Homo sapiens: one gene and its partners. The protein of the gene in region 1 binds, or shares a complex with, the protein of each later gene. Each region holds a gene or a part of one and is shown in the gene's direction. Other genes may lie near its edges.

Evidence for each region.
Region 2: LSM3 (region 1) and LSM2 share a complex: the UniProt entries of both Homo sapiens proteins name them as parts of the precatalytic spliceosome.
Region 3: LSM3 (region 1) and USP39 share a complex: the UniProt entries of both Homo sapiens proteins name them as parts of the U4/U6-U5 tri-snRNP complex.
Region 4: LSM3 (region 1) and PRPF6 share a complex: the UniProt entries of both Homo sapiens proteins name them as parts of the U4/U6-U5 tri-snRNP complex.

What each region holds. Positions count from the first base shown.
Region 1 is NC_000003.12:14,195,572-14,202,242, forward strand, and holds the end of LSM3 (U6 snRNA-associated Sm-like protein LSm3), read left to right. Parts: intron 1-2,464; coding exon 2,465-2,545; 3' UTR 2,546-5,551; downstream 5,552-6,671. UniProt on the Homo sapiens protein: Plays a role in pre-mRNA splicing as component of the U4/U6-U5 tri-snRNP complex that is involved in spliceosome assembly, and as component of the precatalytic spliceosome (spliceosome B complex).
Region 2 is NC_000006.12:31,796,718-31,804,582, reverse strand, and holds the end of LSM2 (U6 snRNA-associated Sm-like protein LSm2), read left to right. Parts: intron 1-6,075; coding exon 6,076-6,106; intron 6,107-6,533; coding exon 6,534-6,593; intron 6,594-6,700; coding exon 6,701-6,826; 3' UTR 6,827-7,187; downstream 7,188-7,865. UniProt on the Homo sapiens protein: Plays a role in pre-mRNA splicing as component of the U4/U6-U5 tri-snRNP complex that is involved in spliceosome assembly, and as component of the precatalytic spliceosome (spliceosome B complex).
Region 3 is NC_000002.12:85,618,507-85,626,371, forward strand, and holds part of USP39 (ubiquitin carboxyl-terminal hydrolase 39), read left to right. Parts: intron 1-713; coding exon 714-783; intron 784-2,978; coding exon 2,979-3,073; intron 3,074-5,119; coding exon of another isoform or gene 5,120-5,139; coding exon 5,140-5,276; intron 5,277-7,032; coding exon 7,033-7,185; intron 7,186-7,865.
Region 4 is NC_000020.11:63,976,642-63,984,515, forward strand, and holds the start of PRPF6 (pre-mRNA-processing factor 6), read left to right. Parts: upstream 1-4,490; 5' UTR 4,491-4,604; coding exon 4,605-4,675; intron 4,676-6,405; coding exon 6,406-6,574; intron 6,575-7,874. Other genes in the region: SAMD10 (sterile alpha motif domain-containing protein 10), read right to left, coding at 330-501, 584-765, 1,604-1,703, 3,213-3,353. UniProt on the Homo sapiens protein: Involved in pre-mRNA splicing as component of the U4/U6-U5 tri-snRNP complex, one of the building blocks of the spliceosome.

The sequences.
Region 1 (6,671 bases):
AAAAGAGGCCCCTGGTTTGTAAACTGCATCTGAACTGAGAGAACTGTGAATGAGCTCTGAATACTGTTAGGAGCCCATAGCAATGGTCTTCCCTGAGAGCATGCAACCCTTGTAGTGGAGTGTGCCCCCTCCTTGGTGACTGTAAAGCCACATTCATGGAACTGTTGTAAACGATACTGGTTCTGGTGTGGAGCTTGGCGCAGTTAAGCCAGGGTGGCTCCTGCACCCACCTGCTAACTAAGCAGTCATTTGGGTAGCTAGGGAAGAATCCTTGGAATGCTGTAAAGACTTCTGAGACACTTGCCACTGCCCAGCTGGCATGTGCTGTGTTTCCTTTGTATAAAGCTGTGTGCCCTTGGCTATCTTGAGCTTTGTGAGTTTTTTTTTTTTTTTTTCTTTGAGACGGAGTCTCACTCTGTCACCCAGGCTGGAGTGCAGTGGCGCAATCTTGGCTCACTGCAAGCTCCGCCTCCCAGGTTCACGCCATTCTCCTGCCTCAGCCTCCCAAGTAGCTGGGACTACAGGTGCCCGCCACCACACCTGGCTAATTTTTTTTTTTATATTTTTAGTAGAGACGGGGTTTCACCGTGTTAGCCAGGATGGTCTTGATCTCCTGACCTCATGATCCACCTGCCTCATCCTCCTAAAGTGCCGGATTACAGGTGTGAACCACCGTGCCTGGCCGAGTTTTGTGAGTTTGATGGCCAAGTTGCTGCAGAGATCAACGATAGTGGGTGTTGCAGAATCCTACTTCCCAGACAGAACCATCTGTACCCCCAAAGGATGCAAGCAGGATATCCAGCTCAGGGTGCAGGACTGCCACGTGACTTTCGGTTTTCTCCGTCAGACCACATGTGGTCACTTGTACAGAAACCTATCCCCAAAGAAGATGAATAATTTACCCCTCCCACATTTATGATAAACACAGCAGGGACAGGATATCCACCACAAAAACTCTCTTCCCAGAGAAGGAAGGAATGAGAAACATAAGACAGTTACTGGTCCCTAACAGTGGTGAATCCCACTGGGAAGGCATGAATGCTCCCTGTCCTGGTAGCAGCAGAAATCCCTCAATTAGATCAAATATGTCCCATCCAATGTTTGGAACTTATACTAAATTTAATTGTGCGTCCTACATCTTTATTTGCAAAATCTGGCAACCCTAAATGGGGTCCGCAGAGCTTTCAGGGCCAACTTCTATTATGCTGGAAGACGCAAATAGTCAAAGGTTTTTTTTGGCCAGGCTTATGGTTTCTTTGGCAATGCAATTTCTTTAAAAACTTAGAACATAGGTTTCTGAGCTGTTTACATCCAAACAATTCAAAGGGCCAGTAACCTGTCTAAGCTCTTCCCTAGGCATAGTTTCTAGGACTGCTTTATTTCTTCAGTTTCTCACCCCTGTTCTGCTTTCTGAAATTAATGTTGACTACTTTGAGGCCATTTGCTACAAAAGTTTGGGTGGAAAGACAACACCCTTAATCTGATCTTTGCCTCAGGGCTGAGTTTGTTTACCTGGGAAATTTTGCTGGGCCTTGTTTCTCAAAGCCTTTTTTCATACTTATTTCTGTAACTTGGGGTCTAAAAGCCAGTGGCTTTTCTAACCCTGTGAATCCTGTTTCTTTTCATCTCTGCTTGAAAACCAACTAGTTCTTGCCTGAGCTTTTCTGTTTCTTCTACTGCCCTGCTAAATACATTAGGCTAACAGCAACATCTACTAACATTTGGCTTTTCCAGCCTCTTCTCCCAGAGCTCGTGAGTTTAGGAGCCCCTTGGGCTACATTCCAAGTTTTATCTAATATTTTGCCAAGGCATAATATTAGGATTTCGAACATTCATGTGTTTCTTTACTGCCCAAGGCCTGACCACTAAGCTCATGCTTCAAGGTATCCATTCCATATGTGTGACCACAGTAGCACCCAGAAGTAACACATAATGGCTCAGCAAAGTAGAAGTTGATCTCTTGCCCATATGACAGCCCTGGTGGGGTTTAGATCTGCACAATAGCTTTCTTCCAGGTGGCAAGTCAAGGACCCAGGCTTCACCTATCAGTGGCTCTGCCATCCCCTGAGCTCTCGCCATTATCTTAGTTCATTTAGTGTTAGAGGAACGACTGCAGAGGGGCATTCTGGGTCAGTCTGGATATAGTCCTGTCATTTCTGTTTACTTGCCATTGGTTAAAGCAATCCGATGGCTACATCTGGTTGCAAGGAAGAATAAGAAACATAGTCCAGCTGTGTGCCCAGGAGGAGAAGAGTGAGTTTTAATGGGTAGCTCCAGTCTCTGCCACAATTGTCGAAAGGAAGCAGTTGATGGATTGGTTCTTGGTGCTACCAAGGGAAGTGATCAGGTTTTTTAATCCAATTTTTTTGTGTCATGATGAATCCATTTTTTAACATTTCTGTCACAAACAATAAGCAGTAATACACAGTTGTACAAATATGTTCTGTTTTTTTTTCTCTTCTAGTCAACGAAACGGAATATTCCAATGCTCTTTGTCCGGGGAGATGGCGTTGTCCTGGTTGCCCCTCCACTGAGAGTTGGCTGAAACAAAGAATTTGTCCTGTATGGAAAACGGGAGACTTTGTACAGTGGCCTCTCTAAAAGTACAAAACATTCATAAGAGAAACCTGCATACATTTTGATATTAAGAAATAATTCCGGGGATTCTTCCACTCCTGAAATGAGTTGATTTGCAGATAACTCACAACTTCTTAAGCTAAATGGTATTTTCATTTTTCTCAAGCTCTCCAATAAATATGACCACCAAGATGCAGAACTCTTTCAGGACTTCTTTTGCTCCATTATTCTCACAGATACTTACTGATTTTTCTTTTCTTTAAATTGGTGTTTCCTTGTAGATTTTTTTAAGTGCGGTCTTCTGTCTTGTGAATTATTTAAAGTAAGCATGTCTTACCTTCACTTAGCACACATTTGCAGTGCACCTACTGTGTTTGAGGCACCAGGTTTGAGTGCTGGGAACCAGAGTTTTATCAAAATGCTTTCTGGGCCAGACATGGTGGCTCATGCCTGTAATCCCAGCACTTTGGGAGGCCAAGGTGGGTGGATCACCTGAGGTCAGGCGTTTGAGACCAGCCTGGCCAACATGGTGAAACCCTTTCTCTACTGAAAATATAAAAATTAGCCAGGCGTGGTGGCGCATACTTGTAATCCCAGCTACTCAGGAGGCTGAGGCAGTAGACGCTTGAACCCAGGAGGCAGAGGTTGCAGTGAGCCAAGATCACACCATTGCACTTCAACCTGGTCAACAGAGCGAGACTCCGTGTCAAAAAAAAAAAAAAAAAAGTTTTCTGCCCTCAAGTCTTCTGGGGAGGCAGATGTTTAAACCAACAATTGCAGGCAGTAAGATTAGTGCTGATAGAATCATGCACATGCAGGATGCCATAGGAGCATGGGGAAGAGCACCCAAATATGGGAGAAAGGGGCAGAGGGACATTGTAAACATCAACCCTGCAGTAGAAGACAGAGCAAAGCATGATTTCTCTTTTCTCTGGCCTGATTTAATTCTAAGGTCAGACGTTCAGCTTGATCATAACCTGTTTATAATTATGACTCAGACCATTTTTCCACTCTTGGATCATTGGCCATTAATGATGAGGGGTCTCAAACAACATGTCTCAGTGACACAGTAAAGCAGAAATTGGCTGAAAGCAAAGCTGTTTTTATTTCTAGCTTCAGTCAGCACATAATGCTTAAAACCTAAAGAGGAAAGTAAAAGCGTGTTACAATCTCTCAAACTTTATCAAGACAGGGCTTAGAACCTGACATCCTCCGCTATGGTCATTCCATTTTGAAATGTAGAAAATCCAACTTGTGGATGGTTTGTCTGTAAATGAGCTGAATGTGTGTGCGTGTTCATTATCAAGCACGATATGCTCACAAATGCACAGTACTTTAAGCCTTGTGCAAGAAAGATGCTTTCAGTAAACATATTTAAAAGGTTTTATTTTCCTTACTAATGGTACATGCCCCTGCAAGTTCATGGAGAAGAGAAAAACAAGTGTGGGTGAGCTGATGGAGGCTTCATCTTAGGTGAGGAGGCAGGAGAGACACCCTCCCTTCACTTGTGCCATCCCCACGCTTTGTCCTTAAGCTGTAGTGGTCCCAGGAGATAACCTGTTTACAGCAGCCCATTCAGTATTGAAAAATGAACTCCCTCCTGCAGAATGTTAGAAGAAACAACCTCAAAGACCTCAGGCCGCCTGTGGTCATTAGTATGTGGCAGCAAGATTGAACCTGCCTGCCTCCTACCTGTGTGAGCCTGTGGTGTGGGTGTGGTACCAAGGCCCTGGCTCTGGGCAGTCTGTTGGCTCCTGGTGTTCACTAAGGCGTGGGGTGACAGGCCATCTGGCCTCGCTCTGCCAGTCTGCAGTTCTCCCCAGCACTGCATTCATTTTTAGTGGTTTCTGATAGTCACACTGAATTCCTGGACACTTTCTTCTCTTCATTCTTAGTTATCTTTCTCCTTTTTCTCCTGGAACTGATAGTTTACACTAAAACTTTTGGCTGTGAGGACTTGATTATACACATTTCTAAAACCCATGAACCTTAATATCTGACACTGTTACTCTCATATGCACACACAACTAAAACATACCAACCTACTTCATTTCCTAGCTGCTAAGATACAAGGGGAGGGACAATAAAAGGTTAACTGCAGAATAGCCACCTATGTGTCAGGAAATGGAGGGAGGGGAGGCAATGTGTGAGTCCTTTTGGAGCTGGGACTCAATCCACAACAGAGACAGCTCAAGCAGGGCCCTGCCATGGTCCACACTGAGGTTTCCTCTGCAGTGGTGCTGTCCACTGAGGGGTTATGGTGTGAGGGCCCCTGGGAGCCACGCCTTGGACTTCTGAGTCTGCAGAGCACTCGGCTCCAGCCAGCTGGATGGCAGGTGGTCAGTGGAGCTGGTGACTGGTGGTTTCTGCAATGAGGTGTCAGATTAGCCTAAGGGAAGCCTCTTCAGCAAGTATCATGCCTGGATCCCGGTCTTGGTTGTTTTATGAGAGGCCGATATGAATTGCCATTGCCTCCCACAAAGAAAAATGGACAAAATATGGGACCACATCTTTGAGATGAAATGTGCCCAAAATGAAAAGTAACTTGAGTATCCCAAGTTAAACTTAATCATTAGCTGCAAATGGACGATTTTCAAATTTCAAATAGTGATTTTTGAAGATTTGCCCAAACTAGAGTACTATCCCTCTTCACACTAAGAGGCAGAAAGTGGTTTCACACACCCTTTTATTTAATCAGCTAAAGTGGGTGCGGTGACACACACCTGTAAACTCAACCACTAAGGAGACTGAGGCGGGAGGATTACTTGAGCCCAGGAGTTCGAGATCAGCCTGAGCAACATAACAAGACCCTGTCTCAAATAATACTTAGCTATTACCCATATTGCTTTTAGCCTGCTGCCAGGAGGGGAGAAATGTTATTGTTTGAACAGATGTCAGATGTGAGTAATGCTCAGCTGTGTTCAATGTAGAAAATTAATAAAAGTTCCAGGAGTCATCCTGGCTAGATCAAGAAGCACAGTTGATGTTTCTCTGTCACTCAGCTCTGCTGAACTACATGGATTTCATTCGTGGGCAAGCTCTTCCCTGTAGCAGATGCAGACTTCCAGCCTACCTGCCCTCCAGCTAAAGTGGTCTCATCCTCCTTGCTTGGTCCCTGTGCCCATCTGTGGGCTGGTTTTTACGGCCATGAGAATGTGGGGCTCTGATTGGCCAGGCCTCAGTCACACGCCCATTTCTGGAACTAAGAGCAAGGTTATCCCCACCTGAGCTGTATGGTCTAAGTGCAGAAGGAGGGGTCGTTCTCTGAAGGAAACCAGAGGAAAGGGGAAATGGAGCTGGACACAATGCCTATTACACAGGAAAACTTTTAGTCTGCCCCAACTTATAGAAAAATCCCTTTGGTACTTTCCTATTAGTAACAAATTTCTTGGAACACACCTCAGACTGACACTATGACTTTAAGCTATTGCTCTGGAATCCAGGAGGTTCTGGAGCAACCTGTGTGGGGATCAGTATGGGTGGAGCTCAGATTTGTTGGCTGACTGGGCCTGATGGTAGCCCGAGTCCTCTTGAGGGGTCTAGGTAGGAGATCTGCAACACAAGAGGGCTGTTAAGCTGGGGGTAGGTATCAGGGGGTCCTCAGAGCTTCTGGGGAGGGCAGGGTAGTTGAACAGAGTGGACTGAAGAACACTAAGCCCCATGAGACAAATTGCTGCTTACAGGCAGAGACCATATTCACAACCCCTGGCAGAGGGCCTGGCCAAGAATTTGTCTTCAATAAATGTTAAATGAATATTTAAATGACAAGAAGACTAGTGCAACAGGACTTTGTGATCAGCACTGTGGATGGAAGGTTCAAATGGGAGTTTGAAAGAAGGTGAACTTTGCACATTGTTTTCCAGACACTTGTGGTTTCCTTCCCACAATTGGACAGTGTTCCCCGGTTTTTTACCCTCGTGGCCATCCTCCCCATTACCATTTACCTGAAAGTGTCAGTATTTGCCAACTCTAGATACCTAACTAGTTATTAATTTACATAGAAAACTAATACCAAGAAATGAGGAAGATAAGGCCAAATGCTTTAAATTCCTTTTAGATTCATTGCCCAATTTTAATAAACCAGAGCATGTAGG
Region 2 (7,865 bases), on another chromosome or scaffold:
AAAGAAAAATAATATCCGAAGACGTATTGACTAACCACTATTCTGAATACATTTATTGATTGATTTCTCAAACACTGCTAAGTAATATATACTATTGCTGTTTTACACGAGGAAACTGAGGCTTAGATCAGCTATACCACTTGTTCAAGTCTACAAAACTAGTAAGTGACACAACTGAAATATGATTCTGTCCAGCTTTTTTTCTTTCTTTTTTTTTTTTTTTGAGATGGAGTTTCAGTCTGTCACCTAGGCTGGACTGCAATGGCGTAATCTCGGCTCACTGCAGCCTCTGCCTCCTGGGTTCAAGCAATTCTCTGCCTCAGCCTCCCTAGTAGCTGTGATTACAAGTGCCCACCACCATGCCCGGCTAAATTTTGTATTTTTAGTAGAGATGGAGTTTCACCATCTAGGCCAGGCTGGTCTTGAACTCTCGACCTTGTGATCCACCTGCCTCAGCCTCTCAAAGTGTTGGGATTACAGGCGTGAGCCACTGCGCCTAGTCCTACTTTCTTTCTTAAAATAATATTTATTTATTTAAAAATTAGAGACAGTGCCTCACTTTGTTGCTCAGGCTGGTTTCAAATTCTTTGAGTTCAAGCAGTCCTCTTGCTTCAGCTTCCCAAAGTGCTGGGGTTACGCGCATGAGCCAGCACACCTGGCCCTGTACTTATCTGTACAGTCCTTTAAATAATATGTACATTTAGGCCAGATGCGGTGGCTCATACCTGTAATCCCAGCACTTTGGGAAGTCGAGGCGGGTGGATGCCTGAGGTCACGAGTTTGAGACTAGCTTGGCCAACATGGTGAAACTCCATCTCTACTAAAAATACAAAAATTAGCCAGATGTTGTGTTGTGCGCCTGTAATCCTAGCTGCTCAGGAGCCTGAGGCTGGAGAATCACATGAACCCGGGAGGCGGACGTTGTAGTGAGCTGAGATCAGGCCACTGCACTCCAGCCTGGGCGACAGACTGAGACTCCATCTCAAAAAAAAAAAAAAAGTACATTTAAAATATTGATACCTGTTACCTCATTATCCTTTAGAAAGATGGGATCAATTGTATTCTCTTCCCAAAAGCGTCTTCCACATTTATTTTTTTGAGATGGGGGTCTCACTCTGTTGTCCAGGCTGTAGTGCAGTGGCACCACCATAGCTCACTCAGCCTCCTGAATAGCTGGGGCTATATGCCACCATGCCCAGCTAATTTTTTAATTATTTGGAGAGGCAGAGTCTCACTGTGTTGCCGAGGCTAGTCTGAAACTCTTGGGCTCAAGCAGTCCTGCCACCTTGGCCTCCCAAAGTGCTGGAATTACAGGTGTGTGCCACTGTGTCTGGCTGTCTTCCACATTTCTATGTGAGATAATTTTTTCATGGGTTACACGTTGACAGGGCAGGGAATGGTGAGGAGAGGGACTTAAGGGCCTTTGCGTTTTAGAACACAGGTTTCCATTTGTAGCACTGGCAATGCAAGTGATATTGATGTGTATAGATTGGGGCCACAGAGCAAGACAAGTACGGTAATCACTATCAGTCTTAGGCAATTTGGTGTGATGACTTGTTTTTGATTCTCCTCTTTTCTCCTTCCTGGGCCTTTTACATGGGAAGCCTAACTGTTGTGTTATAACCCTAGGCCCTAAAGTACCTTTATTTTTTTTATTTTATTTTGTTTTTGAGACAGAGTCTTGCCCTGTCGCCCAGGCTGGAGTGCAATGGCGTGATCTCGGCTCACCGCAACCTCTGCCTCCCGGGTTCAAGTGATTCTCCTGCCTCAGCCTCCCTGGTAGCTGGGATTACAGGCATGCGCCACAACGCCTGGCTCATTTTTTGTATCTTCAGTAGAGACAGGGTTTCACCATGTTGGCCAGGCTGGTCTCCCAACTCCTGACCTCGTGATCTGCCCACCCCAGCCTCCCAAAGTACTGGGATTACAAGTGTGAGCCACTGCACCCGGCCGTAGTAACATTTCTTTTCTTTTTCTTTTTTCTTTTTTTTATTGAGACGAGTCTCGCTCTGGTCGAGTCTACGCCAGGCTGGAGTGCAGTGGTGCTGTAACCTCCGACTCCCTGGTTCAAGTGATTATCCTGCCTCAGCCTCCCGAGTAGCTGGGATTATATGCATGCACCACCACGCCCAGCTAATTTTTGTATTTTTAGTAGAGAAGGGGTTTCACCACGTTGGCCAGGATGGTCTCAATCTCCTGACCTTGTGATCTGCCCACCTCGGCCTCCCAAAGTACTGTGATTACAGGTGTGAGCCACTGCGCCCAGCCTTCTTTTTTTTCTATTTATTTATTTATTTTTGTTTGAGATGGGGTCTCACTCTGTCACCCAGGTTGGAGTGCAGTGGCATGATCTCGGGTCACTGCAACCTCTGCTGCCTGGGTTCAAGTGATTCTCCTGCCTCAGTCTCCCAAGTAGCTGGGATTACAAGTGCCTGCCACCATACCTGGCTAATTTTTGTATTTTTAGTAGACATCGGGTTTCACCATCTTCGTCAGGCTGGTCTTGAACTCCTGACCTCGTGATCCACCTGCCTCGGCCTCCCAAAGTGCTGGGATTACAGACGTGAGCCACTGCACCCGGCCTTTTTATATTATTTTTAAAATTTTTCATAGAGACAGAGTCTCGGCCGTGTTGCCCAGGCTGGTCTTGAACTCCTGGACTCAAGTGATCCTCCCACCTCAGCCTCTCAAAGTGCAGTGACTACAGGTGTGAGCCAATATGTGTGTGGCTTTAAAGTGACTTTTCTGTTGGGATGAGAAAGAAGATCTTTCTCCTTTTTTTTCCTTGAGACAGGGTCTCACTCTGTTGCCCTGGCTGGAGTGCGGTGGCGCGATCTTGGCTCACTGCAACCTCTGCCTCCTGGGTTCAAGTGATTCTTCCACCTCAGCCTCCCGAATAGCTGGGATTACCGGTGCATGCCACCACTCCCAGCTAATTTTTTGTATTTTTAGTAGGGATGGGGTTTCACCATGTTGGCCAGGCTGGCCTCAAACTCCTGACCTCAAGTGATCCTCCTGCCTCAGCCTCCCAAAGTGCTGGGATCACAGGTGTGAGCCACCACGCCTGGCCAAAAGTTCTTTCTCTTATGTTTGTTGTCAGACCACTTTTGTGCTATGTATCTCCCCCTCCTTAAGGGACTTAATAAAATGACACCACTTTGTACAATTCCCAAATGTTATTTCACTGCTGGAGATGGTGGGGTGCTGTCAAATGTTTTTCAGCAGCTAGCAATATGGTGAGAACATTACTGAGGCAGTGGGTTTCAGATACTGGGTGTTTGTTTTTGTTTTTGTTATTAGGCAGAGACTCACCCTCTGTCTCAAAAAAAATAATGATTGCCTAGTACTAGTTCATTTAAATTAATTTCCTAGAGCATATTTAAGTGGGTCTTTTTTTTTTTTTTTTTTTTTTGAGACAGATCCTTACTCTGTCACCGAGGCTGGAATGCAGTGGCATGATCTTGGCTCACTGCAACCTCTACCTCCTGTGTTCAAATGATTCTCGTGCCTCAGCCTCCTGTATACCTGGGACTACAGGCATGCACCACACACAGCTAATTTTTGTATTTTTATATTTTATTTTTAAATTTTTTTTTTCCTCCTGGGTTCAAGTGATTCTCGTGCCTCACCTCCTGAGTAGCTGGGATTACAGGTGCACACCACAATGCCCAGCTAATTTTTGTATTTTTTTTTTTTTGAGACGGAGTCTTGCTTTGTCACCCAGGCTGGAGTGTAGTGGTGTGATCTCCGCTCACTGCAAGCTCTGCCTCCCAGTTCACGCCATTTTTCTACCTCAGCCTCCCAAGTAGCTGGGACTACAGGTGCCCGCCACCATGCCCGGCTAATTTTTTGTATTTTTAGTAGAGACGGGGTTTCACCGTGTTAGCCAGGATGGTCTCGATCTCCTGACCTCGTGATCCACCCGCCTCGGCCTCCCAAAGTGCTGAGATTATAGGCGTGAGCCACCACGCCCGGCCAATTTTTGTATTTTTAGTAGAGATGGGGATTCGCCGTGTTGGCCAGGCTGGTCTTGAAGTCCTGGCCTCAAGTGATCCGCCCACCTTGGCCTCCTAAAGTTCTGGGATTATAGGCATGAGCCACCGCACATGGCCTAGACGCTGGGTTTTAAAGACTTTCAGAATTTTACAAAAATTGGGGCAGAGAACTGCCAACTTTATTTTTGGCAAGATAAGGACGTTTTTAAAACTGCTATTTATTACGATTATTTTTATTTATTTATTTTTCTTGAGATGGAGTCTCACTCTGTCACCCAGGCTGGAGTGCAGTGGCTCGATCTCGCCTCACTACAACCTCCACCTCCCGGGTTCAAGTGATTCTCCTGCTTCAGCCTCCCGAGTAGCTGGGATTACAGGCGTCTGCCACTATGCCCAGCTAATTTTTTGTATTTTTAGTAGAGATGGGGTTTCACGATGTTGGCCAGGCTGGTGTCGAACTCCTGACCTCGTGATTCGCCCGCCTCGTCCTCCCTAAGTGCTGGAATTATAGGCGTGAGCCACCGTGCCCGGCCACAGTTATTTTATTTTATAACTTTAAAATAGAGATGAGGTCTTGCTATGTTGTCTGGGCTGTTCTCCAGCTGGCTTCAGGCGATCCTCCTGCCTCAGCCTCCCAGAATGCTTGGATTATAGGCGTGAACAACCATTCCCAGCCAAAGGCTGTTTTTTTAAATTTTTGCACCATTCTCTCAAAGAGCACTGGTGTTTTGATAGCATTCCTCAAATAGCATTTCAAGGGGCTCGAGGATTGGGGAATGGAGAGGACATCACTCATGCCTGCATCATCAAGAGTAATGCTACCTACCTTTATCCACATATGGGCTCTGGTTCCAAAGCAATAAATGTTTGAAAATAGCTAGCCTGGGTGACATTCACAGTGAGACCCTTTCTCTACAAAAAAAAAAAAAAAAAGTCGGGAATGGTGGCTCATGCCTGTAATCCCAGCACTTTGGGAGGCTGAGGTGGGCAGATCATGAGGTCAGGAGATCGAGACCATCCTGGCTAACACGGTGAAACCCCGTCTCTACTAAAAATACAAAAAATTAGCCAGGAGTGGTGGCCGGCATCTGTAGTCCCAGCTACTCGGGAGGCTGAGGCAGGAGAATGGCGTGAACCTGGGAGATGGAGCTTTCAGTGAGCCGAGATTGTGCCACTGCACTCCAGACTGGCCGACAGAGCGAGACTCCATCTCAAAAAAAAATCAGCTGGGCATGGTGGCTCAAGCCTGTAATCACAGCTACTCAAGTGGCCACAGTGAGCCATGATCACGCCATTTCACTCCAGCCTTGGCCATAGAGTGAGACCCTGTCGCAAAAATAAAAAAAAAATAGCTGATGGTTTTGGGAGTCACACAGACTTGGACTGAAGTTCCCATTTGTTCTAAACTCATAAAGTTTAAAACAACCTCTCTGAGCCCCTGGAAGGTAATAACTACTTTGAAAGATGGCTGTAAAGATTACAAATACTATATAGAATACAGGTCTAGCCTTTACCAGTTGTTTAATGGTAGCTGTTAAGAATAGGTTGGTTTGGCCGGGGACAGTGGTTCACACCTGTAATCCCAGCACTTTGGGGAGCTGAAGTGGGCAGATCGCCTGAGATCAGGAGTTAAGGAACAGCCTGGCCAACATGGTGAAACCCCATCTCTACTAAAAATAAAAAATTAGCCGGGCATGATGGCATGCGCCTGAAGTCCTAGCTACTCAGGAGACTGAGGCAGGAGAATCGCTTGAACCTGGGAGGCAGAGGTTGCAGTGAGCCAAGATCACACCACTGCACTTCAGCCTGGCTGACAGTGAGACTCCATCTCAAAAAAAAAAAAAAAAAAAAAAAGAATGGATTGGTTTAGGGAGAGGAGATGTGGGGTTGAAAATAAACTACTCTGTTAGTTGTCTTTCCTACTCCAGGGCTTAGGAATGCCCCCTTTTGGTTCTACCTTTTCTGACATCCTCAAGTCCTTGACTTCTCCCAGTCATGTTCTCATCCCAGCTCTGAAGTCACCTCTATGTTGACTTTGTTATAAACTAATTTGATTCTTCTCTCCCTCTGCCCTTGACAGCATCTGTGGAACCCTCCATTCTGTGGATCAGGTGAGATATAGCACGGGCCCCAGAATTGGTTCCTGGAGAAGGAGAGGGGAGACTTAAGGGTTGGGTTCTTACATCATGTCTCTAGGGTTAATAATGGTGTTCGTCGGCCAGGCACGGTGGCTCACGCCTGTAATCCCAGCACTTTGAGAGGCCGAGGCCTGAGGTCAGGAGTTCAAGACAAGCCTGACAAACATGGTGAAACCCCGTCTCTACTAAAAATACAAAAAATTAGCTGGGCGTGGTGGTGGGCACCTGTAATCCCAGCTAGTCGAGAGGCTGAGGCAGGAAAATCATTTGAACCCAGGAGGCGGAGATTGCAGTGAGCCGAGATGGCACCATTGCACTCCAGCCTGGGCAACAAGAGCAAAACTCTTGTCTCAAAAAAAAAAAAATAATAATAATAATGGTGTTCATCTTCCTTTCCTAGTATCTCAACATCAAACTAACTGACATCAGTGTCACAGACCCTGAGAAATACCCTCACATGGTGAGTTGGGGTCTGTGGAGAAGAGGAAACACCTCTAAAGCAGGAGGCCCCTGGGTGGTTAGAGGACATTTTTAAGGGTGTTTTCATATTTGTCCATCTTTGTCTAGTTATCAGTGAAGAACTGCTTCATTCGGGGCTCAGTGGTCCGATACGTGCAGCTGCCAGCAGATGAGGTCGACACACAGTTGCTACAGGATGCGGCAAGGAAGGAAGCCCTGCAGCAGAAACAGTGATGGCTCCTCCTCCTCTTCCCCTCCCTCTTTCATTGGTGACCCATAACCCCAAGTCCCAGCCCAGAACCCCTAACCCCCAATACTTGAAGGGGTTTTGTTTTTTTACTAATGATGGTTTTGTGGGTTTTTTTTAAGGGATGAGTGGATGAGAGGAGTAATAGGGAACAGCTATCCTCTCTTGAGAAGGGGAGGATAAGTAGGCTGGGAAACTTCAAAGCCTTCCCAGTCCCCAGCACCTGCCTTTCTCACTACTTCTCTGGAGATGGTAGGAGAGTTTCCTAGGTCTTTCCAGGGCAGCATGTGATTCATTTGGGGATGGAAGGAATCTGTCCCGCATCGGGAATAAAATTTATGATGCAAATTTGTGTTTTGGTTCTGTTACTATGTGTTGGGCAGGGGGCTGGGACATGGAAAAGGATGTCGAATTCATCCAAGCCCCTGTTACTCTGCGTTAACCCAGCCAAGAATCCAACTCAGCTTCCCACTACTCTCCTTGGTATAAAGCATATAATACAGTTGCTCTACACCATGTTTCCCCAACATGTCCCTACCTGTATGTTCTCCCTGTGGCCTTTTGCTTATACCATACCTGCAACTGGAGTGCTTGCTGTCCTTCCATTAATGTGATAGTGTCATAAGATACATTTCATGCTACCAGACTTCACCAATCCAACCAAATCAGTTCATGTTTTCTGAATATGTATAGAAGATAAATACAAGTGATGTAATTTATATTTTAGAGAAAAGTTGTGACTGGGAATTACTAAACTTCATTCACTCATTCAGCAAATATGAGTTCATGATACAGATGAGACTTCTCAGCCTTAAGGGACCCTTAGAGACCATCTAGTGTGACCCTCCTTTTTGTTTTTGAGACGGGAGTCTCACTCTGTTGCCCAGGGTGGAGTGCACTGGCTTGGTCTGGCTCACTGCAACCTCCGCCTCCCGGTTCAAGCGATTCTCCTGCCACAGCTCCTGAGTAGCTGGGATTACAGATGCCCACCACCATGCCCGGCTAATTTTTTTTTTTTTTTTTTTT
Region 3 (7,865 bases), on another chromosome or scaffold:
AGCTGAGATCGCGCCATTGCACTCCAGCCTGGGGGACAGAGCGAGACTCCGTCTCAAAAAAAAAAAAACAAAAAAAAAACGAAACACACAACTATATGGTACATTTGTATTACAATTAGTTTATTTTAGTGCTTGTGACATATTTCATATTTTTCATGCTTTATGGGATTTCTTTATGTAAAATGCAAACAAATCTTCTGTTGATTTTATGTATACCAAATATATTCTCCCAGTTTGTGGCTTGTTCTATTAGTGGGCTTTTTTCTTTTCTTTTTTTTTTGAGAGGGAGTTTTGCTCTTGTCGCCCAGGCTGGAGTGCAGCGGTACGATCTCTGCTCACTGCAACCGCCTTCTCCCAGGTTCAAGCAATTATCCTGCCTCAACTTCCTGAATAGCTGGGATTACAGGCACCCACCACCATGCCTGGCTAATTTTTGTGTTTTTTGTAGAGACGGGGTTTCACCATAGTTGGCCAGGCTGGTCTTGAACTCCTGACCTCAGGTGATCCACCCATCTCGGTTTCCCAAAGTGCTGGGATTATAGGCATGAGCTACCGCGCCCGGCTAGTGGACTTTTTTTTCGATATTGTTGCCACCCAAACAATAGGAACTCATCTTGATTAGTTTTTCCCATTTCTGTTTCTTTTTTTGTTCTGTTAGTTGGCCCTGAGTATAGGTTTCCCATTTTCAAAGCCTGTGATGATTTTCCTTTCAGCAAAGAATGGCCGAGTGGATTCTGAGGACCGGAGGAGCCGCCACTGCCCGTACCTGGACACCATTAACAGGTCAGTAGGACAGAGATGCTGAGTATAGCACAAGAACAATGGAATCTGTGCAGAAAGTTTTTGGACTGTACAGTGAACAACACATTGACAAACTTTACTTTTTTTGAACCTGTCTAGAGAGTTGTGCTTCTTGCCATGTTACTCCTTATTCTTTGATTTAAAGTGTCAGAACACATGTTGTTAAAGAGCTTATTTTGCATTTGTATGTTGGGATAACAGGATGCATAGTATCCTAAAATAACAGTAGCACATTGAAATGTTTATGGAGTATCTAGTATGTGCTGGATACTATTTTGGGTGCCTGGGATTCAGCAGAAAAAAAACACAGAAATTTGTTTGAAAGCTGAGGTAGTTTACCTCATCATAGCATTCTTTTCTCTGATTCCCAGGTGGCATGTAGAATGTTTTTCAACCTATATTGTAGGGGAATGTTTTACAATAATATAATTACTCTTGTAAGAGCTGGGTGTGGTGGCCCACGCCTTTACTCAGCCCTTTGGCAGGCCAAGGCAGGAGGATCCCTTGAGGCCAGAAATTTGAGACCAGCCTGGTCAACATAATGAGACCCATCTTTTTTTTTTTGAGATGGAGTTTCATTTTTGTCCCCCAGGCTGGAGTGCAATGGCGCGATCTTGGCTTACTGCAACCTTCGCCTTCCAGGTTCAAGTGATTATCCTGCCTCAGCTTCCTGAGTAGCTGGGATTACAGGTGCCCGCCACCACGCCCAGCTAATTTTTGTATTTTTTTTAGAAGAGACGGGGTTTCATCATGTTGGCCAGGCTGACCTCAAACTCCTGAACTCAGGAGATCCACCTGCCTTGGCCTCCCAAAGTGCTGGGATTACAGGCATGAGCCACCACGCCCAGCCAACGAGACCCATCTTTTAAAAAAACTTAAAAAAAAAGTTATGGCCGGGTGCTCTGGCTCATGCCTGTAATCCCAGCACTTTGGGAGGCTGAGGCAGGCAGATTGCTTGAGCTCAGGAGTTTGAGCATCCTGGGCAGCATGGCAAAACTTCAGCTCTACAAAAAATAAAAAAATTAGCCAGGTGTGGTGGTGCACTCCTGTAGTCCCAGCTTCTTGGGGGGCTGAAGCAGGAGGATTGCTTGAACCTAGGAGGTTGAGGCTGCAGTGAGCTGAGATTGCGCCACTGTACTCCAGCCTGGATGACAAAGTGAGACCCTATCTCAAAAAAAAAAAACCAAAAAAGTTATAAGGGCTGTTCATTATGGTAGGCATGAGCCACCTGTGGCTTCAGTGGCTCCTGCAGTTGAAGAACTGAATTTTAAATTTTATTTAATTGAATTACAGTCAGCCTCAGTATCAGGATATGGAACCTGAAGGTACAAAGGGCCAGCTGTAAGGGGCTTGAACATTGTGGATTTTGGTATTTGAAGGGGTCCTAGAACCAGTGTCCTGTGGCTACTGAGGGACAGCTGTATTTTAAATTTAATTGTCAATAGCCACTTTGTCTAGTGGCCTCTAATAAATTAGACAGCATAGCTCTTTGGGATTATTATCGGTTAATTAAGAGTTACTATTTGAGAATAAATCTCTTTGTGGATTCAGTGGAGATAAGGTTTTTGTTCCTTACTGCCAGTACTCACTTTGCACTTGAATAAATAGGTCTGTTTATAGGTATTCTGAAATTCTTCAGGCTATTTGTTTTTATGGATAAAAATACATTTTTATTTTGTAATTAATTATTATTATTATTTGTTTTTAAGAGAGGATCCCACTCTGTATCCCAGTCTGGAGTGCAGTGGTGGATCAGAGCTCATTAGTCACAAACTCCTGGGCTTAAGTGATATGTTTTTCTTTTATGCAAGGATTTATTCACCCTTTTTATGTCCTCTCCACCTCCAGAATGCTGCTGGGGTACTGTTACCTTAGTCTAACTTGTAGCTTTCTCTCTAGAGAAAGTGACTGCAATGGAAAGTCCTGAACTGGTTACAAACACTAATGAGAAAGAGGCTCGTGGGTATTATGTGTCTGGTGGAGACACCTCAACAGTGCTTTGGAGCATGGCGGGTGGAGGTGAGGAATAATCAGTGTCCCCCATGGTGTATATATGGTTGTGAACTGTTTTCTGAAGGATGTTATGTGGTATCATGGGTCACAGAGCCAGCACTGCTTCATTTGCGTGCCTTCCTACATGTCCATCCTATTTATTTTTTTCTGTTTTGTTTCCTTAGGAGTGTGCTGGACTTTGACTTTGAGAAACTGTGTTCTATCTCCCTCTCACACATCAATGCTTATGCCTGTCTGGTGTGTGGCAAGTACTTTCAAGGTAAATAAGTTGTTAGAGCTAACTGCAGATCTGCTCCAGAGGGACTTTTTTTTTTTTTTTAAAGAAAGTAAGCTGTTCTCAGGAATCATATCTAATAATTTCTATTTGTTCCCAGGAAATTGAAATATTCTTAGAAAACCAATAAGAGGTTCTCTGACTGGTCAGAACCTGGATATGTCTGTAAGGGAGAAAGAGCTAGTCATATGAAAGACTGTAATCTTAAAGACTCTGGGTTCTCGAATCTCTAATATATGTATTTTTTTAATTTTTACTTTTTTAAAATTATTTTGAGACAGTGTTGCCCAGGTTGGCTCACTGCAACCTCCGCCTCCTGGGTTCAAGCAATTGTCCTGCCTCAGCCTCCAGAGTAGCTGAGATTACAGGCGCCTGCCACCATGCCTGGCTAATTTTTGTATTTTTAGTAGAAACGGGGTTTCACCATGTTGGCCAGGTTGGTCTTGAACTCCTGGCCGCAGGTGATCCACCTGTCTTGGCCTCCCACAGTGCTGGGATTACAGGCGTGAGCCACCGCGCCCGGCCTAATTTTTTTTTTTTTTAAGAGATGGAGTCTCACTCTGTCACCCAGGCTGCAGTGCAGTGACGTGATCTTGGCTCACTGCAGCCTCTTGACTCCCAGGTTCAAGTGATTCTCCTGCCTCAGCCTCCTGAGTAGCTGGGATTACAGGCATGCACCATCACACCCGGCTAATTTTAGTATTTTTTAGTAGAGAGGGGGTTTCACCATATTGGCCACACTGGTCTTGAACTCCTGACTTTAAGTGATCCATACTCCTCAGCCTCCCAAAGTGCTGGGATTACAGGCATGAGCCACCGTGCACGGCCACATTTTTTTAAAAGATGGGATTGTACTCTGTTGCCCAGGCTAGTCTTGAAATTCCTGAGCTCAAGCAGTGTGCTTGCCTGTACCTCCCAAAGTGCTGGGATTATAGATGTGAGCCATTGCACCCTGCTGTCTGGCTAATTATTTTATTTTATTTTTTTGTGGAGACAAGGCCTTATTATGTTACCCAGGCTACAATTTTTTTTTTTTTTTTGGAATATTCTTTAGCTCAAAGGACTTTTTTTATTCCATTTTTTTCTGAAAATTTATCATTTCAACTCATTCACACCAAGCAGATGCCATGTACATAGTATAGTGGAGGATTCAAATGAGGTAAAAACAGCTGGGCACAGTGGTTTACACACCTAATCCTAGCATTTTGGGAGGCCGAGGAGGAGGATTGTTTAAAGTCAAGAGTTCAAGACCCACCTGGCTAACATAGCAAGACCCTGTCTCAAAAAAAGAGATAAAAACTGTATTCTTTGCTCTCGTAAGGAGCTTATAAGGAGTCAAGGTTGACATGTAAAACAACCAGTGAGTTCTGTTAGATCATAAAGATTACTGCTGGACTGTGGCACGGAGTAAAAATAAGTGCAATAGGAGTTGAATGTGCAAAAATCAATGTTAGCTGGAGTGTTTATGTTGAGTTCATGGAAGAGCTGAGGTGGGACTTGAATTGGCAGGACATAGAATTTGAATGGTTAAGGGAGAGAGATTCTAGAAAGGAGTAGCAACATGAAAAAAGTTACATAGATAAAGCATTGTCCTGAATATGGGCATTTGGAAATCCAGGACTGAGTGATGATGGACTGTCATAGGATATGTATGTATTTATGTTTATGTGTATTTATGCACACATATATGCATAGATATTTCTAGTTTCATGTATATAGGAAACTATGTATGAATATATAGTTATATGTATTATATATAGATATATATATAGGTTATATATATTTTACATATATATTAAAAAATAGTGAAATTTGTTTCCCTAATCAATGTCTTAGGCCATTTAGAGAATGAAGTAACTAATGTGCTAGTCTTTCTTGCTAATTTTTTTATGAGAGAACTTCATGTGGAGGATTCATTTTATGAATGGCATAATATTTGTTTTTTGCGGATATTAACATGTTCCGGTAGAAAATAATGAAAGGAAAAGCAAACCTGATCTGTGTGTTCTAGTATCTGCCCTTCTATTACAGCTTTTCACCCTTCCCTACAGGCCGGGGTTTGAAGTCTCACGCCTACATTCACAGTGTCCAGTTTAGCCACCATGTTTTCCTCAACCTCCACACCCTCAAGTTTTACTGCCTTCCAGACAACTATGAGATCATCGATTCCTCATTGGAGGATATCACGGTGTGTGTCTAAGAGGGTTGGTTTGGGGTCCATTCTTTAATGAGCCATCCCAGGGCTCCCAGGGGACTGCCCCACCTGAGGACAGGGAAGAATCTCAGTCCCTTTAGGCATCGAGAGGCTGCTTTCTCTTTTGGGAAGAACTGGGGAAACTGAGTAAGGTCAGAATTCATAATTGCAGCCTGTAGTCTGTAACTTAACTGTCATTTCTACTTGTAACATTGAGGGCTAGGACTGAAGAAATATGGGTGTATTCTGATGGGGTTTAAAGTGTTTTTGTGAAATTATTCTTCTACACTGTGAAGTAGGGATATGAATTGGTCCTGGTGTAGGACAGTATTTACCAAGCTGCACACCGGCTCCTGGCTGCTTTTAACATACGCCGTGGCCAGAGCATCCAGCCACAGATATCTTATCTGTGGGCTCTAGTTTGTGACCTGTGCCAAGAGACACTCATTGTACTGAGCATGGAAAGTCCTCTTGGGTTTGATTAGTGTTGGGCTTTTGATTATTATTTTCCTTTTCAGCACGTGGGGTGTATTCATGGTGCCATGTGCTCTGTTCTTGTTTTTGGTTTTTTTTTTGAGACAGGGTCTCACTTTGTCGCTCAGGCTGGAGTGCAGTGGTGCCATCACAGCTCACTGCAGCCTCGACCTCATGGGTTCAAGTGATACTTTTACTTCAGCTTCCCAAGTAGCTAGGACTGTAGGCGTTACCATCATGCCCAGATACATTTTTAAAATTTTTTGTAGAGATGGAGTCTCACTGCATTGCCTAAGTTGTTCATGCTCTGTTTATTTTTAAGGAAAACGTGGTATTTAGTCTTTGAAATACTGCTTTTTCTACTTGTAAAAGTTGTATAAGCCTATTATTAATAGTTGAGATTAAAATAGTTATGGACAGGCTTGGTGGGGAGGCCCACACCTGTAATCCCAGCACTTTGGGAGGCCGAGGCAGGTGGGTCATTTGAGGTCAGGAGTTTGAGACCAGCCTGACCAACATGATGAGACCCCGTTTCTACTAGAAATACAAAATTAGCCGGGCATGATGGCACATGCCTGTAATCCCAGCTACTTGGGAGGCTGAGGCAGGAGAGTTGCTTGAATCTGGGAGGGGGAGGTTGCAGTGAGCCAAGATCATGCCATGGCACTCTAGTCTAGGCAACAAGAGCAAAACTCCATCTAAAAAAAAAAAAAAAAGTTATGGTCAGTATTTATAGAGGGAAAAACTGGGCTAAATTCAGTGTTTCAAAGTGAGTTTGCGATGATCTCTGTCCAGTCTGTGACATAATGACTGTGGTAACTCTGTGCCTGGGAAGAGTCTGATCCTGCTCTTCCAGTACCAGGGACTCATGGAGATCCTCATTCCCACCCAGAGTGGAGGAAACTCTCCTGCTCCAAAGCTAGGTCCATGTGCTGCTCCCAGGAGGTTCTATCTGAGACTTAGACTGCCTTTAGGAACTTGAGTATTGTATGGTTTCTGGCAGTCAGTTTTCATGAGTTGACCAGACCTGAGGTCGGCGAAAAGACCTGGGATTCAGTGATTTTGGGATAGACACAGAGATCCCCTTGTAGATTAGCCATGGGAGAGGATCTACTCCGTGTTACTTCAATCTTTACACCTACTGGTTCGGACTATTTTTCTGTGTGTGGTGGGATGTTCATGGCCAAGTGTTTTTTGTTTTTGTAGAAATTACTGTTACAGACATTTCTTGTGAACTCAGCTCTTAAACAACTTAGCATTTTCTTTTGCTTTGCAGTATGTGTTGAAGCCCACTTTCACAAAGCAGCAAATTGCAAACTTGGACAAGCAAGCCAAATTGTCCCGGGCATATGATGGTACCACTTACCTGCCGGGTATTGTGGGACTGAATAACATAAAGGCCAATGATTATGCCAACGCTGTCCTTCAGGTAAGATCAAGACGGGAACATTGAGGAAGAGAAGGACACCCAGAAGGCTGAGCACAGTGGCTCACCCCTGTAATCCCAGCACTTTGGGAGGCCAAGGCAGGCGGATTGCCTGAGGTCAAGAGTTTGAGCCAGCCTGGCCAACATGGAGAAACCCTGTCTCTACTAAAAATACAAAAATTAGCTAGATATGGTGGTGGAAGCCTGTAGTCCCAGCTATTTGGCAGGCTGAGGTGGGAGAATCGCTTGAATCCGGGAGGCAGAGGTTATAGTGACCCGAGATCGCGCCACTGCACTCCAGCCTGGGGAACAGTGAGACTCTGTTTCAAGAAAAAAAAAAGAGAGGGACAGGAAATAGTATGTGTACTGGCCAAGAAATTACTGCCTTCGGCCAGGCGCAGTGGCTCATACCTGTAATCCCAGCACTTTGGGAGGCCAAGGCGGGAGGATCACCTGAGGTCAGGAGTTCGAGACTAGCTTGGCCAACATGGAGAAACCCCATCTCTACTAAAAATACAAAATTAGCCGGGCTTGGTGGTGCATGCCTGTAATCTCAGCTATTCGGGAGGCTGAGGCAGGAGAATCACTTGAACCCAGGAGGCGGAGGTTGCAGTGAGCTGAGATCACGTCACTGCACTCCAGCCTGGGCAAGAAGAGCGAAACTCCTCCGTCTCAAAAAAAGA
Region 4 (7,874 bases), on another chromosome or scaffold:
ATCCCAGGTACTCGGGAGGCTGAGGCAGGAGGATTGCTTGAACCTGGCAGGCAGAGGATGTGGTGAGCCAAGATCGCACCATTTCACTCAGCCTGGGCAACAGGAGTAAATCTCTGTCTCACCAAAAAAAAAAAAAAAAAAAAAAAAAAAGAAAGGCAGAGAGATAGAAAAGACAGATTCTGCGGAGATGAAGAACAGAGGGGAGGTTGATTCACAGGAGAAACTAGACAGACGAAAACAACAGCAAGAGAAAGGCAGGCTGAGTGTGGGGAAGAGACGCTCTGAGGCAGGTTAGCCCCACTCCCACAGCACCCTCAGCGCCACTGTACCGGTGATGGCATGCTGGGAGAAGGCCTCCACGTAGACGAGGTAGTTGTGGGGACAGTGCTTCTTGAGCCACTTGCAGACGTCCTGCTGACTCCACAGGACCACGGGCCGGGTCAGGCCACCCAGCGAGGGGCTTGTATGGTACAGGCCATAGTGGTCAGAGTACAGCCGGCCCTGCAGGGGAGGGGCGTGGCAGGCAGAGTGAGAGTGGTGGAGAAGGAGGGCAGGGACGGAGGTGGGTGGAGTGGGTGGGTACCTGGGGGGTGTCTGTGCCGGGCTGCTGCAGGAGCTTGATTGGCCTGCTGCTGGCCGCCCTCTGGCTGCGGGAGTCATGCCACGTGAGGCTGGTGCCAGGTGTCCGAGGCAAGTGGCAGGGGATGCTCTCAGCTGACACCGTGTGCTCCAGGAGGGTCCGGCAGAAGCTGAAGTGGGCAGTGGCTGTGTGTGGGGGTGCCTGGTCAGGGCAGTCAAGGGCAGAACCAGAGGCTTCCTCTACTTGAGAGCTAGCTCCCTGCCCCATCTCCTCCACACTAGTGCGGGAAATCACCTCCCCAATGAGGGGTTCCCAAGCCTCCAAAGGCAGAAGGAAGTGTGCAGGACCTGTTTCGAGGACCTCACCCAGCACAAAAAGAGAAGAACTGGAAACACCTTTCATCTTGCAAGTCTACAGCCCTCACCCAGGGGAGCAGGATGGATTCTTAGATCAGAGGATGTGCCCTCTAGGGAAGGGAACCTGAGACATATGACAAGAGGAGCTATCCTGGGACAGCCCTGACCTCACCCTTGCCTTGGGCTGGCCCACAAGTCTTGCACACACCACACCAGACCAGGAAGTGCACACACGGCCTGCTTTGAGGAAAGGCAGATCCCGAGTCCGGGGAGGTCGTCTGTGCTGGGGAAACCGGGCTGAGGATGCTGCTTGCCCATCGCCACTGAAGGCACCCAGTTCACACAGCCCTATCTGGTGTTGGGGCCCGACTCACTGACTATGACTCATTGACAGCCTGAACTGTGGGCCAACTGACAAGCAGGGCTCACTCCGCAAACACGCGCTGGGCTCTCCAGCTGTGCCGCCCCCCACAGGGCCTGCAGCCCGGGACAACACCGGCCATGTGAATGGTGGGTACCCATTGGATATGGGCGGGTCAGCACAGGTATGTGGGGTGCAGCCATTGCTTGGGGACCCACGGTGATGCTCTGTGCTCCCTCTTCCCACAGTAACTGCATTAAAGTGTTTCATCTGAGCTTTGTCATCATCTCTGGGGGCACTGCTGACCTGAGTCTGGGGAGGCAGGCGTCTTGATCCAGGTCTGGTTACAGAGGGGCACCCCACATTCATTGTCAATGAATGAATGAATGAAGGCTCTGTATGGTATCTGCAAGTGAACAGAGCCTGTGGGGAGACAGAAGGTGGGCACAGGCCTGCCCCTGTCTTTACAGCACCCTAGCACCCAGGCCTTCAGCAGGGCAGGTGAGGTTCCCACGCTAGGGCCCTCATCCCATCCACCCTAGAGTGAGAGACCCTCCCGGCCTCAGACTCAGCCACCCACTCCACACCCAGGGCAGGGGTTGGGGATGTGTCTAGGAGGTCTAAGTATCGGTGAAAACCACATCCTACTTCCCCGTCCTCCCACGCCTGTAAGACTTAGGAGACATAACACCTTCCGCCCCCATTCTTGCAACTTTCAGGAACCGGACCCCTGGGTGACTCCAAATTTGAGGTCTGGGGTCAGCAGAGGGTGTGCTCAGTGGGCCACCGCCCCGAGGTGGCCCCTAGTGCTGTGGGAAAAGGCTTATTCTAAGCCCGCGCCTTCCAGCGGACAGGCGCCGTGGTCGCCGGGCTTTGCAGGGCCTCGAGCGGCGGGGCTGGTGCAGAAGCGCGCGGCAGTCCGGGGAAACCCGTCGGACTCCTCAGCCCGCACGGCACCTGCCCCGGCCAAGCAGGCTCCGCCCATTTCCTGCCTGCACTCCCGGAGGGAGTTCCGTCCGTCCCGCGGTCTGTCGGTCCGGTCCCTCCCGCCCCAACGTCAGGATTCCAGAAGGAAATGGGGCGGGGGCACCGAGGCGGGATGTGACCTCGGCCCCCTTTCGGCCCCACTGCAAAAGCGGGGGAGGGTTTTCCCCGTGCGCAGGAAAAGGTGACCCGAGCGTAGTGCCAGCCTGGACACAGGCGCCCCGGCTTGACACCCCCTCACCCCAAGCCAAGGGCGCGCTGACCCCCAAGGCCTGAGGCTGGCTGCCCCCTAAAGCAGGACAAAGGCTACGGGACCCCGTTGAGCCGAGACATCCGCCGAATACCCCCAGCCACCGCCGCTCGAAGCCCGCCGGGTCCCGCCCCGCCCCCGTGCCTCTGGGTCCCTGAGACCCCCGCCCGAGAAATCCCCGCTCCCCAATCCAGCCCCGCTCACCGTCCACATCCCGGCGCTCCCCGAAGCCCGCGCGCACGGCCCCGGCGCGGCCACGCGGGGGGCTCAGCTTGGACCTCAGCTCGGTGAACATGGGGCCCGCGGGTGCCAGGCCCGCGCACACGCCCCTCGCCGAGTGCAGGGCGGCCGGTGTGGCCGGCGGGGAACGCGCGCCGCCGCCCCGCCCCGCCCCAGCCGGCCCCGCGCCCGAGCCGGTCCCCGCGGCCCGCGAGTGTGCGCGACGAGGCACCTGCCGCCGAGCCCTGTGTGCCGGGCGCGCTCCGGGAGCTCCGAGGTGTGTCGGCGGCGCGCGGGCCTGCGTGCACCAAGGCTGTCCGCCAGGGCGAGGGGCGTCCGTGCGCCCCTGGGCACGGCTCCGCGGAGGAGAGTCCCCGTGAACCTGCCGGGCGTCCTCTGAGGTCGGGCCCCTCTGTGCGTGGGGGTGGGCTGAGGGGCATCTCACAGGGGTCTTCTACCTACCGGGGCCAGGACAAGGGGCAGGTCAACGCCTCCCACACACTTTCCTCGGTCTCCTACGTCTTTACTCGCCTTCAAATAGGCACCCGCTTCCCCGGAGAAACCAGCTTGACTCTTGCTTACCGCCCACCCCACTGTGAACATCAGGGTGGTTCTCCCTTCCCTCTGCAGCCCCAGAACCTGGCTCAGTGCCCGGGGGAGAGGGGGCGGTACAGTGCTCTGTAACTGAAAGGGGCTTGGCTTGCCTGGAGATGGGGCAGAGGGGAACTCCAAGGAGGCTGTAGCAGGCCGGAGCGGTGTGTTTGCTCCAGGACTCCAGTGAGAAGTGCTGAGATGGGGCTGGGCTAGGGAACTGTGGTTGCCTGGTGCAGCAGCAGGCCAGGCTTGCAACCAGCTATTCGGCTTGCTCTGCCCAGGAGCCTGGGTGCTCTCCCTGGGTGTATGTAGGGGCTCTGGAGGATGTCTTACAGCAGGAGGACCAGAGATGCACACAGACATGTAGAAATGCATGCACAGAGTACAGTCATGCACTTGCACCCAAAACACGAGCACACGTGACCTCTGTGCACACACCCCACTAATCACACACACAGAATTCACCCACATGCTTGACAGCCATGTTCATGTACTGACGTGTTCCCGACAGCTCAGCTGCGGTTATTTATTTCGTCAATTAGCTCTCCAGGAGCTAAGGATGTGGCCCTCACCAGAATGTCCAAGGCATGTTGGCGGGCGTGGGTGGGGTCTCTAGTCCCACTGGAGGGACAGATGCCTGAATGGGGGTTCAAGAATATGAGTGCTAAAAGCGTAGGGCAGCAGTGTGCGCACAGGACGCACACAGACAGGTGTGCCCATAACCAGTACACACAAGCTCTACACAACTGGACAGGGTACAGCTCTGCTCGGACAGGGCGCACCAGGGGCGAGGGCGGGCAGCTGGGCTGGTTCAGAGGGAGGGGGCCATGGGTTCAGAGGGAGGGGACCATGGGTCCCACTCTCACAGACAGGTCTCCGGACTGCATCAGAGCACTCGGGAAGCAGCAATGCCCCAGGCTGTTTTTAGCCCCCAGGGGCCAGTTAGGGTCCCAGTGCAAGCTCGACCTAGCTTCTTCCGCCTCTCCACGAGGAGGCGCTCCCGCGCACGCGCCTACCACGTTCCTGCCCCCTAGCCGCGGCCGGAAGTCGTCGAACCAGGACGTCGGGACTTCCGCCCAGGGAATCAAAAGTGGGCGGGGCGTGTGCGGACTGAGCGCTCTGCTTCCGGGGCGCGGGTGACGCGACGACGGCGACACTTTGCTACGGAGTGCATCGGACGTCGAAGCCTAGAGTCTCTGCGTCTTTCCCTCTTCCGCTGCCTCATTCCTTTCCTTCCTAGCCTTGGTCGTCGCCGCCACCATGAACAAGAAGAAGAAACCGTTCCTAGGGATGCCCGCGCCCCTCGGCTACGTGCCGGGGCTGGGCCGGGGGTGAGGCCTGGGGCGGCGCGCGAGGGGCGGGGACCCGGCTACAGGAGCGCAGTGCTTTGGGGCGTGTTTGGGGGCGGGGGTCTATGGCCGCGCAGTCTGAAAGACGCTTGGTGGATCGGCTTAATCCCTGCAGGAAGCAACGGGCTTTGGGGTCAGGACATACCTGTGTGTGCACCCTGCTTGCCGCCTAGATGTGACACATTGACTCTCAGCCCAGTGTTTTGGTCTGTAAGATGGGTAATGCTGTATACGGTCTGCAGTGAGGAGTAGAGGAATCTGACGTGTAGTGGAAACACGCGACCACCTTCCTCAGGTCGGGCTGACACTCCCCCCCCCCGCCCGCCCGCCCGCCCCGCCTTAAGCGTGCCTGGGTCCTCTATGCCTGCAACACAGATGACCACCGTGCGTTGCTGGATAAGTGAGCAGTCGTTATTATCCTATTTGGCTATTCATTTGATGAGGAACACTACTGGGTTTTTCTTGGTGGTGGTATTATATTGGAATCTGTGGGGCACACACAAGCTCACTAAGGAGGGTTTGCTATTACCATAAATAAGTACGTAAAGAGGACCAGATTTAGAACCCAGTGCTTAATGGAGAGTAGCATTGGAGCCAAGTTTAGTAAGAGAGCTGGACTTAGGGCTGTAGAAACGGTGACGATAGAAGAGAAACTGACATTCTGCGTGTGGGAGTTCAAAAAAAGTGAGGCAAGGAGGAAGCCCAGGGAACAGGAGGGAGTCCAGTGTGAGTGGAATGTACAGCGAATAGAATAGAGCTCAGGAGGTTGGAGGGGCCTTGAGCGTCAGGCTAGAGCTCCTGGAGACGTTAGAAAGATCATGACCCTTCAGAATTATTATTATTATTATTATTTTTTGAGACAAAGTCTTGTTCTGTCGCCCAAGCTGGAGTGCAATGGTGCGATCTCAGCTCCCTGCAATCTCTGCCCCCCGGGTTCAAGCAGTTCTCTGCCTCAGCCTCCTGAGTAGCTGGGATTATAGGTGCCCGCTACCACGCCCGGCTAATTTTTGTATTTTTAGTAGAGACAGGGTTTCACCATGTTGGCCAGGGGGGTCTTGAACTCCTGACCTCATGATCCACCCGCCTCCGTCTCCCAAAGTGCTGGGATTACAGGCGTGAGCCACCACGCCCGGCCCAGAATTTTTTACTCAGAGCTGTGTTTTGGGAAGAATCATCTGGCAGAGCATGGGTTGAAGTAGAGGAAGGCTAAAGGCAGGGAGAGGTAACTTGGTTTCCAGCTGTGATGGGAGTCATAGTCTGGGAAGGAGGGATTTTGAAAGTGGATTCATTAGTACTTGGGGACAGACAGGATGGGGAAAGTGGGAGAGGGAGGCAAAAATTACATCATGGTCCCGTGGCATCTGGGACAGCTGTTATCAGCTGAAACCCCCCAGAGCAGCTGTAAGGTGGGCACGGAAGAGCTCAGTGTGGGCCAAGTTGGGTTTAAGGGCCTGGTTGGATGTGGAGGGGGAGATGATCGAAGCCTTAGGGTGGAGAGAGATTGCCTTGGTAACATCATCAGGGTAGGCTGAAACTTTCAGGTAAGCAGAGAAGATCAGAAGTGTTTGAGACTGCAGTTCATTGTCACCAGGATCTTTGGAGGTTTCCCAAAGGTGTTAGAAAAAGAGGTGTTAGTAAGTGATAACCAGGAGTGGAGAAGAGCACAGGAACAGAGTTATTCAGACACCCGGTGTCTTGGGGGTCTCCTGCAGCGCCACTGGCTTCACCACGCGGTCAGACATTGGGCCCGCCCGTGATGCAAATGACCCTGTGGATGATCGCCATGCACCCCCAGGCAAGAGAACCGTTGGGGACCAGATGAAGAAAAATCAGGCTGCTGACGATGACGACGAGGATCTAAATGACACCAATTACGATGAGGTGAGATGTGTCCGGCTTTCGTGGCTCCTCCAGCCAGTCTCTGGGAGCAGCTGACCTAACCAGTGTGTGTTGGTGTCTGTAATGAATGGCTTGGAGTGGCTCATGCATTTAAATTTTAGCTATTCATGGAACATCTTTACTGAGAGTGAGAGGGAGCAGGAAAAACACGGAGAAATGTGCACTTTTTGTCCCTCAGAAGAGATGTTCTTGCAGGTGTTAGGACCACTGCCTTGGCATTTTCTATTGCCCAGTCTTTTTTTTTTTTGAGACGGAATTTCGCTCTTGTCGGAAGAGATGTTCTTGCAGGTGTTAGGACCACTGCCTTGGCATTTCCTATTGGCCAGTCTTTTTTTTTTGAGATGGAATTTCGCTCTTGTCGGAAGAGATGTTCTTGCAGGTGTTAGGACCACTGCCTTGGCATTTCCTATTGGCCAGTCTTTTTTTTTTTTTTTTTTTGAGACGGACTTTCGCTCTTGTTGGCCAGGCTGGAGTGCAGTGGTGTGATCTCAGCTCACTGTGACCTCTGCCTCCCCATTTCAAGCGATTCTCCTGCCTCAGTCTCCAAGTAACTGGGATTACAGGCATGCGCCACCATGCCTGGCTAATTTTGTATTTTTAGTAGAGACAGGGTTTCTCCATGTTGGTCAGGCTGGTCTCGAACTCCTGACTTCAGGTTGTCCGCACGCTTCGGCTTCCCAAAGTGTTGGGATTACAGGCGTGAGCCACTGCGCCTGGCTGCCAGTCTTTAATGATAAAAACTTAAAGTGGAATTGGTGATAGTATTTGCTTTTTTTAGCTTTAGTGATTGCCCTCTAAACAGACATCTAAAGAAAAACTTCAGCTGACTGAATACCGATTAACTGTCTTCTAACAGATGACATTTTTCCTCTGAGGAAAATTTTTAAAAATAATTTTAGTTTTGAGGCCAGGTGCGGTAGCTCACACCTATAATCCTGGCACTTTTGGAGGCCGAGGTGGGCGGATCATGAGGCCAGGATATCGAGACCATCCTGTTTAACATGGTGAAACCCCGTCTCTACTAAAACTACACAAAAATTAGCCGGGCATGGTGGCATGTGCCTGTAGTCCCAGCTACTCGGGAGGCTGAGGCAGAAGAATGCTGTGAACCCGGGAGGCGGAGGTTGCGGTGAGCCAAGATTGCGCCACTGCACTCCAGCCTTGGCGAGAGTGCGAGACTCTGTCTCAGAAAAAAAAAAAAAATTAGTTTTGAAATAATTTTAAATTTGCAGGAATTTGCAAAAATAGTGCCCCCCCAAAAAAAAGTTTCTGCATGTCTTTC